Linked DNA regions of Homo sapiens: region 2 is linked to region 1. Evidence: fine-mapped expression QTL. Tissue or cell type: sun-exposed skin. Region 1 holds a variant in brackets; the other region holds the start of a gene. All regions are shown on one strand. Distances are between the middles of the regions.

What was found. PIP is the estimated chance that this variant, and not a neighbour inherited with it, causes the effect.
Region 2: DPP7 starts here. The variant in region 1 is fine-mapped to the expression of DPP7 in sun-exposed skin (GTEx, PIP above 0.99).

Annotation. Positions count from the first base shown.
Region 1 is chr9:137,153,021-137,161,020 of GRCh38, forward strand. GRIN1 (glutamate ionotropic receptor NMDA type subunit 1) reads left to right here. Exons shown (of 20, transcript NM_007327.4): 5 at 3,649-3,770; 6 at 3,843-4,017; 7 at 5,359-5,503; 8 at 5,601-5,684. It overlaps LOC105376328 (a long non-coding RNA gene), which reads right to left. Exons shown (of 3, transcript XR_007061878.1): 1 at 7,164-8,000; 2 at 6,689-6,757; 3 at 2,002-5,969. Among named protein-coding and RNA genes, the nearest start is that of MIR3621, 12 kb to the right of the region's middle. The variant A/G (reference allele first, on the strand shown) is at 3,319.
Region 2 is chr9:137,110,417-137,118,416 of GRCh38, forward strand. DPP7 (dipeptidyl peptidase 7) reads right to left here and starts at 4,317. Exons shown (of 13, transcript NM_013379.3): 1 at 4,231-4,317; 2 at 4,047-4,160; 3 at 3,827-3,966; 4 at 3,449-3,612; 5 at 2,945-3,080; 6 at 2,790-2,871; 7 at 2,537-2,703; 8 at 2,329-2,389; 9 at 1,696-1,814; 10 at 1,457-1,613; 11 at 1,274-1,338; 12 at 464-534; 13 at 130-367. The coding sequence starts at 4,297. The coding sequence ends at 232. LOC124902314 (a long non-coding RNA gene) reads left to right here and starts at 4,383. Exons shown (of 2, transcript XR_007061874.1): 1 at 4,383-6,628; 2 at 6,755-7,362. RefSeq lists silencers at 4,013-4,162, 4,193-4,542.

The DNA of each region.
Region 1 (8,000 bases):
GCAGAATCATGTACAGGTCATACACAACACATACACGTGCACACATGCCATATACACACCACGTGTACACACATGCACCATGCATACACCACACACACACGTGCACAAATGTATGTACACACACCATAGTCACACCACTCATAGATCTCTACCCACACATGCACCATCATGTACAGGTCACACACAACACATACACATGTGCACACATGCCACATACCACGTGTACACACATGCACCATGCATACACCATACACATGTGCACAAATGTATGTACACACACCATAGTCACACCATGCATCATCTCTACCCACACATGCAGAATTGTGTATAGGTCATACACAACACATACGCATGTATGCACATGCCACATACACACCACATGCTCCATGCATACACACACAAATGTATGTACGCACCATAGTCACACTACACATACATCTCTACCCACACATGCACCATCATGTACAGGTCATACACAACACATACACATGTGCACACATGCCATATACCACATGTGTACACACATGCACCATGCATACACCATACACACGTGCATCTACACATACAGATACAGGCACACACACCACCATATACATCACATACAAAGACATCCACTGATATACGCACACCTACATACATGTACACACAGCACACATGCACATACATCACAACACACATGCGCACCACACACCATGTGCACACCCATACACCCATGCTACATGCACACCATACCCCACACATATGCATACACTGACCACAGCACACATCAACCACACACCCGCCAACATAACTCTTTCTCTTTTTTGGGGAGATAGAGTCTTGCTCTGTTGCCCAGGCTGGAGTGCAGTGGCGTGATCTCAGCTTACTGCAACCTCTGCCCCCTGGGATTCAAGCGATTCTCCTGCCTCAGCCTCCTGAGTAGCAGGAATTACAGGTGTGTGCCACCATGCCCGGCTAATTTTTGTATTTTTAGTAGAGATGAGGTTTCACCATGTTGGCCAGGCTGGTCTTGAACTCCTGACCTCAGGTGATCCGCCTGCCTCAGCCTTCCAAAGTGCTGGCATTACAGGCATGAGCCACCGTGCCTGCCTTTTTTTTTTTCTTTTTTTTTTGTGTGTGTGTGTGAGACAGTCTTGCTCTGTCACCCAGGCTGGAGTACAGTGGCACAATCTTCGCTCACTGCAACCTCGGCCTCCCAGGTTCAAGTGATTCTCGTGCCTCAGCCTCCCGAGTAGCTGGAATTACAGGTGCAGGCCACCATGCCTGGCTAAGTTTTGTATTTTTAGTAGAGACTGGGTTTCGCCATGTTGGCCAGGCTGGTCTCGAACTCCTGGCCTCAAGTGATCCACCCACCTCGGCCTCCCAAAGGGCTGGGATGACAGGCATCAGCCACCACCCCCAGCTCCAACAACTTTTTTTTTTTTTTTTTTTTTTTTTTTTTTTTTTTTTTTAAGATGGAGTCTCACTCTGTCACCCAGGCTGGAGTGCAGTGGCGCGATCTTGGCTCACTGCAACCTCCGCCTCCCAGATTCAACCGATTCTCCTGCCACGGCCTCCCGAGTAGCTGGGATTACAGGCATGCGCCACCACCCCGGCTAATTTTTTTGTTTTTGTAGAGACGGGGTTTCTCCATGTTGGTCAGGCTGGTCTCAAATTCCTGACCTCAGGAGACCTGCCCGCCTCGGCCTCCCAAAGTGCTGGGATTACAGGCATCAGTTACTGCGCCTGGCCTCAAAATACTTCAGAGCAATGGCTCTGGACTGTCAGGGCTGGAAAGGACCCTCCTCTCACATGCTGAGCTCCTTGGAGTGGAGGCCAAAGTCCCACAGCAGAGGCCGACTGGCCCACCCAGCATGCCCATCTCCCAGGAGTGCAGAGAGGCAAGCCCTGGGCAGTGGCAGGCACAGGCCTTCTTGACCCCAGACCTTCAGCCTGTCATATTTTGGCTCCTCCTTAGTGAAGGTTGTTGAGGGTGTTTTGCAGAGAGACATGACGCCAATCTTAATTTTTGACAATTTTCCATAGCATGCAGATAATTTGTTTCCAAAACTTTTCATTTTCCTGAAGTCATCTTGATTGGTATCAGCTATTTCCATAAAACGATCGGATGAGTTTTGATGGACAGATCAGGCTTTTGTTTACAACTGTTTTGCTCCTAATCATTCCACCACATCACATGTCATGGACCTGAATTGCGTCAAGAAGACGGGCTTGTCTGTCAGGCCCTGGTGGGCACTTTGATAGCGGGCATGCTGTGCCATGACACGTGTGGTGTTGGGTCTTGCTGGACAAGCTGTGCTGTGTTCAGTGTGCGGAGCCTCTGCTAGATGCTCTCATTTGGGGCACTGGGCCAGTGCTACTGGGAGCACTTCTGTTTTGTGTCACTGACATCCAATAGCATCGTTATGTAGAGCAAACACCGAAGGGCTGCATTTCTTTGTGGGCTTATTCTCGAGAAAACTGGGGGCAGATCCCTCCTCAAGGAGGGGAGGGCCACCTTGGTTTCCAGTCAAGTATTGTGAAAATTATCCAACACTCAGGCAATCCACCCAACCCTGCTGCCCATGTCTGGAGAAGCAAAGTGTCAGGGGTAGTCCAGGCCCACCTGGAGACAGGTCAGGCCCTGCAGAGAAAGGTCTGACAGACGGGGGTGAGGGAAGACCCCCCAAAGGCCTCCAGAGTCCCACCAGGTCTCCAGGTCCTTGTCATAACCAGAGAGGCCCCAGCCCCAGAGGACCAGGTCCCCTGCTCCACTGTCCACAGGGGCCCACCTGCAAGCACACTGGCAGAGCTCAAGACCACACATGCCTGCAAGGTGAGGCCTGTCTGGGCTCTGTCCTCCTGCAGGCCCCAGGCCTGGGTGGCTGGGCGAAGGCAGCTGCTTATGCAGACTCCAGGGGGAAAGCCGCCTCTCATCTCTGGCCGTCCCCAGGACGCTGGATCCACCAATATCTCACCAACCTGGAGAGCCACTCAACCCCTCATTTCACATGTTTGAACATAGAGGACCAGAGGGGTGTGGCCTGTCTAGGAGGTCTTAGGAGCTCGGGTCCTGACTCTGCCACTTACCAACTCTTGTGTGTCCCATGTGCCTCCGCTTCCCCTCGGGACACAGAGATATTGTGAAAGTTAAACAACATAATCCCCGTAAAACACTTCGAGCAGTGCCTGGTATCTGGCCAGCAAGTGATCAATGGTGATCCATTACCATCCTGGGACCCCATCAGAGCCTTCTGAGGTGGAGGGAAGGGCGTGCTGGGGAGCACAGGTGCAGGTCACAAGAAGGAAGTCAGTCCCATAAGCCAGGTATCTAACCCC[A/G]TCCCTGCTCCCCCAAGGTAAGGGCCAGCATCTAACCCCACCCCTGCTCCCCCAAGGTAAGGGCCAGCATCTAACCCCATCCCTGCTCCCCCAAGGTAAGGGGGCCAGCATCTAACCCCATCCCTGCTCCCCCAAGGTAAGAGCCAGCAACGGAGGCCTGGGAGGCTCCTGGGTTCTGGGCCGCAGCGCCTCTGCGAGGTCTGCAGGCTTCGCTCTAGGAGGGGATGGGGGCTGGGCAGGTCCCTGCTCCAGAGGAGGAGGACCTGGGCCTGCGGAGCGCCGCGGTGGGAGTGCTGGAGTCCTGGCCCGTCATCCCCGTCTGCCCCACAGCGAGGACGATGCTGCCACTGTATACCGCGCAGCCGCGATGCTGAACATGACGGGCTCCGGGTACGTGTGGCTGGTCGGCGAGCGCGAGATCTCGGGGAACGCCCTGCGCTACGCCCCAGACGGTGAGTGCTGGGCCTTGGCGGGGTCCCCGAACGGGGAGGACCCCACGGGCTCTGAGTCGCATGCTCGCCTAGGCATCCTCGGGCTGCAGCTCATCAACGGCAAGAACGAGTCGGCCCACATCAGCGACGCCGTGGGCGTGGTGGCCCAGGCCGTGCACGAGCTCCTCGAGAAGGAGAACATCACCGACCCGCCGCGGGGCTGCGTGGGCAACACCAACATCTGGAAGACCGGGCCGCTCTTCAAGAGGTGGGCGGGGCCTCCCCGGAGCTGGGCGGGGCTGCTCTTGGGGAGGTGGGCGGGGTCACTCCAGAGATGGGCGGGGCCGCTCTTGGGGAGGTGGGCGGGGCCACTCTCCAGAGCTGGGCGGAGCAGCTCTCAGGACTAGGCGGGGCCGCTCTTAGGGAGCTGGGGGAGCGCTCCTCAAGAGATGGGTGGGGGCACTCTCGGGGAGGTGGGCGGGGTCGCTTCCAGGAGGTGGGCGGCGTCGCTCTCAGGGGTACTGCAGTGGAGCCTGCTGCCAACATCCTCTGGACACTGTTACTTCTCTCCTCTCCCCCCACACCCCCAGCACCACCACATCTAATGGCACAATCATCTGCCCTCTTCTCAACACTGACACCAGTACCTGGGCCGTCACTGGAGTGGGGACTGGCTCCACTGCCTCCGCCCCTACTTTCCACACTGCAGCCCACCCTGAAACAGCACCCCTCTCCCTGTGTGGCTGGCAGCCTTTGGGAGGAGGCTCTTGATGCAGATGGGGACTGAAAGCTTCCAGGGACCCAGGAGGCCAGACAAGCAGCCCAAGAACAGCACACGAGCCTTAGACAGCCAGGGTTGGCCAAGGCCCAGAGACCCAAGTGAACATCTGCAGTGTGGCAGGAGTTAGCTCACAGCACGCCTGGACACCATGCCATGCCAGCTCACCCCCAGATCCCCAACCACTGAGTAGCACGTGCAGAGCCACCATCCACAACGCCCACATAAGTGCAGATGTAGGCAGCACGTGTGCACACACACGACACACATACACAGAACCATGTGTGCACACAGACTCAGGCACATGACACACATGTGACACAAGCACATGCATGGGGTGCACCCCACATAGGGATCACGTGTGCACACAGGTTCACTGATGTGGCCCGATGGGTACAATGCACACGTGCACACACAGCCGGACAGGACAGCCTGGTGGTTAGAGCTGGCTCAACCTCGCCTTCACTTGCTGGCAAGAGGGCAGGCATCCTTCTGAGCTTCTGCCTCCGTCTCTGTAAGGCAGGATGGTTCTGAGGACAACGTCCTAACCCACAGAAAGCCGGGTCTGGCACCCATAAACCACTCAGCTGTCATGAACCACACCGTCCATCTGGTGCAGGCAGATACCACGGTGTCCAGGGTCTGGCGTCTGCTGATCTTTCCGTTCTTGGGACTGGGACAAGGGAAAAGCCCAAGCTGCTCAGCCGGCAGGAGAAGGAGCAGGGAGAAGGAGCAGGGGGAAGGAGCAGGGAGAAGCAGCAGGGGGAAGGAGCAGGGAGGAGCAGGAGAAGGAGCATCTCTGAGAAGCCTCAGCTATGCTTCCTTCCCTAGAGTGCTGATGTCTTCCAAGTATGCGGATGGGGTGACTGGTCGCGTGGAGTTCAATGAGGATGGGGACCGGAAGTTCGCCAACTACAGCATCATGAACCTGCAGAACCGCAAGCTGGTGCAAGTGGGCATCTACAATGGCACCCACGTAGGTGGGGGTCATGAGGGGGTGGGGGCTGGGGCCTTAGGGTCCTGGGGCCAAGACCCCTGCGTGGCCACCCTCCATCTCATACTCCCACCCCCAGGTCATCCCTAATGACAGGAAGATCATCTGGCCAGGCGGAGAGACAGAGAAGCCTCGAGGGTACCAGATGTCCACCAGACTGAAGGTGGGGGCCCCACAGACCTCCCTCAGTGTCCCCACCCCAGACAGCCCATCCACCCCCTCTGGCCTGAAGGAGGAGGGTGCGGTGAGGTCAATGAAAGCCACTAAAGGAAGTGGGGGTGGGGCCTGCTTCCCCTGGACACCGTCCAGCACACCTGGCACAGCACAGGAAGCAGAGAGAACAGGAGGGAGGAGAGGAAGCTGCCCCCATCCCACAGGGGGTCTCCAGTGCCCCTCTTGACCCAGCCCTACTTAAGTCTGGGGCAGTTAGTTGTCTGACAGGACCCTGCTGGGGAAGAGCAGATGGGGGACAGCAGGCAGACCTCAGCTTCAGCACTCGCTGTCCCCAGTCCTGGTCCTCCACACCCCTCATCCCTCCTCCAGCCTGCATTGCTCTTGATGGGACCGGGTCAAACTGTCCTCTTCCACCGTGTGGGACAGCCCTTCCTGACTCCCCTGGGCCTCTGAGAGCCTCTGCCCTCGCCGGCTTCCTCCTCCAGAACATCTTTCCCTTGGCTCCCTACTCCAGGGTGCTCTCCTGGCCATTCCTCCCCGGGCAGAGCCACACTACCCCCACTCCACACACACTCCAGTCCTGGTAGCATCACAGACCACCAAAGGCAAGGACCTCACAGGCGACACGCCCACCAACCTTCTCTCGGTCATTCCAAGCCCTCAAATGTCTCTTGACCCTGTCTGTTTTCTGAGCCCACCCCTGAAGCTTGGTGTCAGCCCCTGTGACCTCTCACCCAGGCTCCCTCCCCTGCTCTGCACCGGCCCCTGTGGCCTCTCACCCAAGCTCCCTTCCCTGCTCTGCAGACAGGGTGGGGTTTTCCAGTGCCAGTGTGGGTTTCATTGCAGCCCAGACACCTCACACTGAAAAGTCTGAAAGCAGCGGTCAAACGCTAATGGCCAAAAGGCCCCATCTAGGCTGTGAGATGGAGATGGCTTTTTACAAATTTGTTTCTGGCCTCACTAATTTTTTAAAAATACTAGCATATATATTACCTGTATAACAGGAAAATGTAATGAAAGTTTTATAAAGCAAATCAACTTCTTCAATGGCTCCTGATTCCCCTGGGGATAAAAGACAAAATGCTGCCTGGAGGCTGAGGGTGGGCGGGCCTGCCCCCCTCTCAGGCTCACCCTGCCTAGGACATGCCGGGAGGGTGCCTCTCCCACCACCCCCACGCCTCCCTGCCTTTGCAGTTCTGGACTGCAGACTCCTCTGCTCCACCTGCCCTCAGGCACCTGCTTGATCCCTGCCCACCTTGAGGGCTCAGCTCTGACACCATCTCCCCTCACAGTTCTGGCAGTGTGCTATGCTCTATTCCAGCCCCCTGTGCCCCAGATCCCTTCCCCACCCCCATGCCATGGTCCCTTGAAGGACAGACAGGAGGGCGAGCCCAAGCAGGAGTGTGGGTCGAAGAGGCCACGGCGCGGTGGAGCACGTACACACGGGCAAGAGAAAGGAGCCAGAGACCTACATTCAAAGCCTGAGGGCTTCGGGACTGGGGGCCGGGACAGGCAGTGCGCCGGGATGAAGGGAGGCACGGGTGGGTGGCCCCACGGGTCCCAGGTCCTGTGCAGGTGCAGGGTCGGCTTTGTGGACATGCCCCTGTCCTCGTGGCACAGCAGGGTGGGGGTCAGCCTGCAGGCTGGGCTGTTTCTCACCCCAGGAAGATGCCTGGCATACACGGGACATCAGCGGCTCCTCTGCTGGAGGGAATCATGTCTTTTTTTTTTTGAGACAGAGTCTCGCTCTGTCGCCCAGGCTGGAGTGCAGTGGCGCGGTCTCCGCTCACTGCAAGCTCCGCCTCCCGGGTTCACGCCATTCTCCTGCCTCAGCCTCCTGAGTAGCTGGGACTACAGGTGCCCACCACCACGCCCGGCTAATTTTTTTGTATTTTCAGTAGAGACGGGGTTTCACCGTGTTAGCCAGGATGGTCTCGATCTCCTGACCTCGTGATCCGGCCGCCTCGGCCTCCCAAAGTGCTGGGATTACAGGCGTGAGCCACAGCACCTGGCGGGGAATCATGTCTAAGCCAAGACTGGAGAAAAAGTGGCCAAGAGAAGGGTCCAGCTCTCCAGGAGTCTTTTCTGAGCCCCCAGCCCCCACCCCCCCGGGGCTGCAGGCAGACGATGCTGACGGTGGCTGGGGAGGACGTGTCCTGAACACTTGGGCTCGTGAAGAAGCTCCAGAGAGGGGCAGTGGCCGGCGGCGCAGGGCGGGGGGTGTGAGGGGTGCGTCGGGGATTAAGAGGGGCGCCAGGGGAGGCTGGGAGCTGAGAAGAGACTGCCGCCCTGGGCAGCCTTAGGT
Region 2 (8,000 bases), 43 kb before region 1:
TCTACCTTGTGGAGCACATGGCATACCCGGCCTGTGTGGGGTGCGCCGCGTCCCCAGCCGTGTCTCCGAGGGTCCCGCTCCCACAGCCTGCGTGTGGGCCCCACAGACAGGAAGGACGGGACATACATGGCCAGGCCTCCAGGCGTTTATTCAGCCCCTTCCCTCTGCCGCCAGCTGCTTGAGTGAAGCCCCCACTCCATGAGGAGCCTTGAGACCCCTCCAGTCCTGTGCTCAGAGGCTGAGTCTGGGCCCCCCACGCAGAGCTGGCTGCTGCTCACGCCTGGCTGCCTTTACCCACTCGCCGATGATGGTGGCCTCCAGCTTCCGCGCCTCAACCACGGAAGCAGGATCTTCTGGGTGGGAGGCTCTGGGGAGCGGGCACAGAGGGGGCCCGTCAGCCCCAGCCCTCGGTGAGCCTGTCCCGCCCGACCCGCGACCACCGCCAGGCCACCTCCCTCCGCACCTGAGGTCGAGGTGGTGCGCTCCCCCCTGGATGGTGACGGCGATGACTGAGGCACTCAGGTTCCTCCGAATCTGTGGTCAGTGGAAAGAACTCCATCAGGTGAGGAACGAGGCAACTGCCCAGCCTCCGTGGGCCCATTGGAGAGGAGACGTGAGAGGGCGAGCCGAGACTCAGTGCCCATCAAGCAACCAGAGAGAACCAGCCAGAGACGGAGGTGGGAAGTGACGAGATGATGGGGGCAAAACCGGGTGAGACAGGAGCAGGGAAGGGGCAGGTGTGAGGCCTGTGATCCCAGCACTCTGGGAGTAAGACAGGAGCAGGGTAGGGGCAGGTGAGGGGCCTGTGATCCCAGCACTCTGAGGGTGAGACGGGAGCAGGGTAGGGGCAGGCGAGGGGCCTGTGATCCCAGCACTCTGGGGGTGAGACGGGAGCAGGGTAGGGGCAGGCGAGGGGCCTGTGATCCCAGCACTCTGGGGGTGAGACGGGAGCAGGGTAGGGGCAGGCGAGGGGCCTGTGATCCCAGCACTCTGGGAGGCCATGCGGGGAAGATCGTTTGAGCCCAAGAGTTCGAGACCAGCCTGGGCGATATGGTGAGACTGTGTCTCTACAAAAAAATATTTTTTTAAATTAGCTGGGCATGTTGGTGAGCGCCTGTAGTCCCAGTTACTGGGAGGCTTGAGCCTCAGAGGTCAAGGCTGCAGTGAACCCTGATCTCGCCACTGTATTCCAGCCTGGGCGCCAGAGAAAGACCCTGTCTCAAAAAAAAAACAAACAAACTAACGGGGTCATAGGGCCCAGGCCAGGACTCACCCCGCCCCCTGCCCAGGGGTCCAGGTTCCCGTTGGAGAAGATGATGTTGCTGGCGGCTCTGAGATCTGCAAGGGGCAGAGAAAGTTGTGATGTGGGCCCCTCACGGGGGCTGTGAGCCATGGGCAGGGGGTGCAGAGCTCGGGGCAGAAAGCAGGACGCTGGCCCACCCCCCCTCAGCCTTACCACCCCCCCAGAAGCTGGTCAGCAGCCAGTCGGGCCGGGGCCACACGCCCCAGGTGTCCAGGCAGTACCGCTGGCGGAGCTCGTCAGTGAAGGGCAGGTCCGGGAACATATCGGTCACATTGTTGCTGGCGAAGGTCAGGTTGATCTCGGTGCAGGCCTGCAGGTGCCCCAGCCTGAGTCAGGCCAGCCCACGCCCACCCTTGCCCCCGAGTGGTTCCAGGCCACCCACACCCCCACACCTGGTAGTCCCAGGCCCTGGCGTCGGGGCCGGTGCCGCAGCCAGTGGGGTCAGCACAGCTGTGGTAGAGCCGGTAGATGTCGTAGCAGTGCTCGGAGCCCGAGGCGTTGTAGACCAGCCCTGGGGAGGAGAGGCGCTGGGGCCCAGCGGCCACACACAGACACACCGCGGGCTCCGGCCACCAACCTGTCCCCCCTCGGAATGGTCCTGCAGGGGATCTGGGGCTCTGGGATCTGTAGGTCCCAGTGAGGAAGGCCCTCCAGGCTACCTGCTTGGAGGTCGGCGGTGTCTGTGCTGCCAGCCCCGGGCCTGACTGTTGAGGGCCCCCCCGCTCTCCACGGGGCAGGGTGGGGCCTGCTGCCCTCTGTTGCCCTCCATGCTGGGGACCCCAGGGGCCCCTTGGGCAGCACCCACCAAGCTGGGCCTGGCTACAGCCAGTGCTGAGAGGGTCCCCAGGGACGGCCCCTGCCTCCCCCAGGGTTTCTGGGAAGGTCGTGCTGTCCACCCCACCACAGCCCTGGGGCAGGAGGCAAAGCCCCTGGCCGGGCTGCGGATCCTCGCCCCACCCGGCCCCAGGACCCAAGCCAAGCCTGGGGTCTCCACACTTGCCCATCTGGGGCCGGGGGAAGGGCACCTGCCAGTGCTCGCAGCCCCGTGATCCTCTGGGCCTCACTCAGCAGCCGATCACAGCCCACCTGGAGTGCAGGGGCAGCGGCGACTCAGCGGGGTCCCCTCCACCAGCTCCGCCTCCCTGGCTCCCAGGATGAGGGTCAGGCCGCTGACCACCAGCCTCGGGACACTCCAGCCGGCCTCTCCCTGCGCCCTGGGAGGCGGCGCCTCACCTTGACGGGGTTGGCAGGGAGGGGACCCAGGAAGTCAGTGGGGTAGGGGTAGTCCATCATGGCCAGCACGGTGAAGGCATTCCGGGCGAACATGAAGAGCTGGGTCAGGTCCTTCTCGTCTGACAGCGGCTGGCAGGTGCCGAACTCCCAGCGGACCGTGTCGTAGGCTGCGTGGAAGGGGCAGAGACTTGAAGTTTGGGCATAGCTGGCGCTGGGGCGGGTCAGGCAGTGGGAGGCGGTGGGAGGACCTCACCTCCCTGTAGGAACAAGTCCTTGATCTGTCGGAACGCTTCCCGCACACCCTGGGTGCATTTGGGACTCTGGCCCTCAAAGTCCTGGGGGAAAGAGACCGTGCTGACTGCAGCTGCTGTCCCTTAGGGGGCCTGGAGGACCCCAAGCCTCACTCACCGCCGTGACGTCCCGGAAGAACTGGTTGGAGTCGCCGAGGCCTGCCACAGCTAGAACGGGCGCGCTGGCCGCCAGCGCCCCCGCCACCAGGTGGGGATACTTCATCCTCAGGTAGGCACTGAGCATCCCCCCATAACTGGGTGAGGGACACAGGGTTAGGGCTGCTGCCCCCAACACCCCATTTCCTCTTTTCCTCCTCAGGGGCCCACAGGTGCCACAAGGAGGACGACACTTCTGAGACCCACAAATTCCAACCCTGGGCCAGGTGCGGGTGCAGCTCTCACTGGGAAAGGCCGCTAGTGTGGCCGCACATCCAAGCTGAGCAGGTGGCTGGGAGGACAGGTGGGAGGGCTTCCTGGGGGAGGCAACACTAAGCCTGGAACCACTGCCTGAGGCCTTACGAAAAGGCAGCGGTGGGAGTCAGAGGGGAGTGGGGAGAAGGGCTGGGGGCGCTGGGTCGGGGCAGGGGAGGGAGGGGGTGCGGAGGCCGGGGGAGGCGCCCACCTTCCACCGAAGGCGATGGCGGGGGCATCCTGGGCCCCGAGGTCGCGTCGTAGCGCGCGGAGCAGCTCTGCGAAGTCGGCCAGGGCCTGCTCCACCGTCAGCAGCTCCGTGTGCCCGCGCTGCGTGGACTGCGCACCGAACGGCAGCGACTTCCCGTAGTAGCGCTGGGGGAACGTGCCATTGAGCCCGGCCCCGCGACCCCGCCCGGCACCCGCGTGCCCCGCGACCCCCGCCCGCGACCCCGCCCGGCACCCGCGTGCCCCGCGACCCCCGCCCGCGACCCCGCCCGGCACCCGCGTGCCCCGCGACCCCCGCCCGCGACCCCGCCCGGCACCCACGTGCCCCGCGACCCCGCCCGCGACCCCGCCCGGCACCCACGTGCTCCGCGAAGACCAGTAGAGCCCCCCGCTCGGCCGCCAGCTCCGCGACGAAGGCCGAGTTGTTGGCGAAGGCCCACACGTCGCCCTCGTTCCCAGTGTAGAAGAAGATGGGCCCCTCGCCCCGGACCCAGAACCTGTCTGTGGGGAGGGCGGATGAGGCGAGGGTGCCGGGGGGCGGCGGGACGGCGGGGGCGGCCGGGCCGGGGCCGGGGTCTCACCCGACACCAGGAAGCGCTGAGGGAAGGTCTTGTTGCCGAAGCGCTCGAAGTTGAAGTGGTCCAGACGCTGCTGGAAGAAGCGCTCCTGGAAGCCGGGGTCCGGGGCCCTGCGGGCTGTGGGGGGACGCGAACCTCAGAGGCGGGGCCGGGACCGGGGAATGGGCCGGGGGGCGCCGCCACTCACCCCCCGCCTGGAGGCCGCGCAGCCCGAGCGCCAGCAGCAGGACCGGGGCCCAGGGAGCGGAGCCCATGTCGCCTTCCGCGGGCGCCCGTCACGTGGGCGGGGTCACGGGGCCGCCAGGGCGCGCTCCTCCCTCCAGGCCCCACGTGTTTCGGGCGCCCGCGGTCCCCACGGAGACCGTCGCTGCTTCAGCGCCGCGCCGGGGCTGTGCCCCCCAACACCCCGCGCCCCGCGGCCGCTGCCCAGGGGTCCTTCCCGGGCACGGCGCGGGGAAGCAGAGGGCCCCCGGGCCATCTCCGCGGCCTCCCGCCCCACTGGCTCGTCCTCCTACCGCGGCCCCATCCGGAGCTGCGCTAGGGCGAGTCCCTGCTGCGCCCGCCAAGCCTCCCCAGCACTTGCTCCTGGCAGGTGCCCCACTCCAAGGCAGGGCCGGGAGAGTGGGGGCCGTTCTGCTGCCCTAAGGGCGGGAGGGAGAGGGTCCCAAACAGAGTGCTGGCCCCCCGAAGAAAGCAACCCAGGGTTTGTCCAAGCGATAACGGGCTGGGCTTGGCGGGGCGGGGCCTCGCAGCGGGCAGGAGTGTGGGGTGCCCCTGGAGCGTCTGGGCAGGGCCGGGATGTGGCCGGGTAGCTCCCAAGAGCTGGGAATCGCCACCTGCCCTTCCGACTGGCACCCAGTGTGCCCACACAGCCCTGCAGGGACAAGGGGGGACCAGAGGCCTCTGCTGGGAGCTGGGGCCTCCTCCCTGGGGAGCACCCAGAGGATGGAAGAAGTCACCTTTCCCCAGCGTCCAGTTCAGGGAGTGGGTGAGGGGGCCGTAGTGGTGGGTGCCAGACTAGCTACGTGGAGTCCTGCTGGGGATGTACATGGGCCGCTAGCCAGGCCCAGAACAGGTGCAGGGGCAGCAGGGGCTCAGCTACAGAGAGTTACCCTGTCCTTCTCCCAAGACTACCCTCGGCCAGCATGACCCTGCCCTGCCCATCCTGTGTGGGGCTGAGCGGAGAAGACCGGCCACTTCCACAGCCCCTCACGCCATGGCCCTCCCGTGCCTCACACAGAGGCACCCCCCATGGTGGGTGACTGGTGGCTGGGGCCCTCAGCATGGTGGCAGTGACCATCACGTCACACTGCAACACGAGGTCATCCAGGGCCACACACCGTCCCCACCACGGCCCTCACATCTGGGCCCTGTCCCATCCCTACGCAGTTCCTGGGGCTGCCTGCCGGGGCCCCCGCAGGACGGGGGTGAGGACAAACAGCAGACCTCCTTGGATGTGGAGGTACCCCACGGCGTCCCCCACCCCACACCTCTGCTCCTTTGGCTCCCTCGGGTGCCTTAGGTGGCCAGAACTCCACCAGCAACCCTCACCCAGGACCGCAGCTCTGGAGACGCCAGCTAGGCCGAGAGCTGGCCAGCTCCCCAAGCACACCAGAGCCTGGAGACGCTCCAGGCTTGGCTGGGCCCACAGAGGGGCCAGAGCCTCAGGGAGGGCTCCAGGAGCAGGGTTTCCAAGGAAGCCACTTTCCCTCTTGTCCACGGCCCAGGCATTGATGCCCCTCTGGGCAGCAGCCAGGGCCTCCCAAGCCGGGAAGGGTGGGCATGGGGCTACCCAGCATGGCTCTGCCAGGGGTGAGGGTGGCCACAGTCCCCTGCCCACATCCCTGTGCCCACAGAAACATATGCTGTATGGAATCAAGGTTTAAGGCATCTAGGCCTGTGCTGGTAACCTGTAACCTTAGCCCCATCCCTGTGCCCACAGAAACATGTGCTGTATTGACTCAAGGTTTAGGGGATTTAGGGCTGTGCAGGATGTGCTTTGTTAACAATGTGTTTGCAGGCAGTATGCTTGGTAAAAGTCATCGCCATCCTCCATTCTCCATTAACCAGGGACACAGTGCACTGCGGAAAGCCGCAGGGACCTCTGCCCAAGAAAGCCTGGGTATTGTCCAGGTTTCCCCCCAGTGAGACGGCCTGAGATATGGCCTCGTGGGAAGGGAAAGACCTGATCGTCCCCCAGCCCGACACCCATAAAGGGTCTGTGCTGAGGAGGATTAGTGAAAGAGGGAGGCCTCTTTGCAGTTGAGATAAGAGGAAGGCTTCTGTCTCCGACATGCCCCTGGGAACGGAATGTCTCCGTGTAAAACCCGATCGTACATTAGTTCTATTCTGAGACAGGAGAAAACCGCCCTGTGGCTGGAGGCGAGATATGCTGGCGGCAATGCTGCTCTGTTACTCTGCTACACTGAGATGTTTGGGTGGAGAGAAGCATGAATCTGGCCTACGTGCACATCCGGGCACAGCACCTTCCCTTCAAGCTATTTGTGACACAGATGCCTTTGCTCACATTTTCTTGCTGACCTCTGCTCTGCTGCCGCATTCCTCATGCAAAGATAGTGAAAATGGTAATGAATAAATACTGAGGGAACTCAGAGACCGGGGCCGGTGCGGGTCCTCCGTATACTGAGCGCCGTCTCCTGGGCCCACTGCCTTCTCTATACTTTGTCTCTGTGTCTTATTTCTTTTCTCAGTCTCTCATCCCACCTGACGAGAAACACCCACAGGTGTGGAGGGGCTGGCCACCCCTTCACTGGCACAGCAACCTGACATGTGAAGGGGCCCAACTTCTGCAGGAGGACCCCAGGTCTGCATCGCCAGGGCCCTCGTCAGCCTGTGCAGGGCACAGTAGGTCACCCAAGGGGCAAGTGAGCCTAGGCTGCCCATGCCTGTGCAGACACCCCCGATCTCTCTCTGCCCATCCCCGGAGCAGCACAGACGGGCAGGTTGGCTGCAGAGCCACCAGCTGAGGGGGTGAGAGGTCCCTGGGCAGGGAATCCTGGGAGCCTGGCCAGCAAGGGTGAGAGGCTGCTGAGCCCAAACCCTCCCCTCGAGGTCCATCTGCCCTCTCCAGACCATCTAGGCAGCTCCTCCACACCCCGATTCCTGCTGGGACACCCAGTCCCACCCTCTATGGCTCACAGACTGGGGGCCATGCCCGGCCACACATCACGTCTGTGCTGTCCCTCAGACTGAAAGGCTATCGGCGGGCGGCTGGCCGTGACCTACTGCATCCGCACTTGGGGCCGTGCTGGTCTGTGTGCTGAATTATACATAATATAAAATTGACCACTTAACCACTTCCGCGTGTGAAATTTGGTGGCATTAGGTACATTCCTGCCTTCACAACGCTGTGCACCGTCATCACTATTTTCCACTATCTCATCACCCCCAGTAGAAACTGTAGCCATTAAACAATGGACCCCAGCCCCTGGCACTCACCATTCTACCATCTGTCTCTGTGGCTCTGCTGACTCCAGGTACGTCATATCAGTGGAATCCTACAGCATTTTGTCCTTTTTTTTTTTCGAGACAGAGTCTCACTCTGTTGTCCAGGCTGGAGTGAAGTGACACGATCTCGGCTTACTGCAACTTCCGCCTCCTGGGTCCAGGCCATTCTCCTGTCTCAGCCTCCGGAGTAGCTGAGATTACAGGCACCCACCACCACGCCTGGCTAAATTTTGCATTTTTAGTAGAGACAGGTTTTCAGCATGTTGGCCAGGCTGGTCTTGAACTCCTGACCTCAGATGATCTGTCAGCCTCAGCCTCCCAAAGCGCTGGGATTACAGGCGTGAGCCACCACACCCGGCCTGTTTTAGCCATTGTGAATATTGATGCGATGAACATGGCTGTGAAATGCCTGCTTTTTTTTTTTTTTTTTTTTTTTTTGAGACAGTCTCGCTCTGTTGCCCAAGCTGGAGTGCAATGGCGCAATCTCAG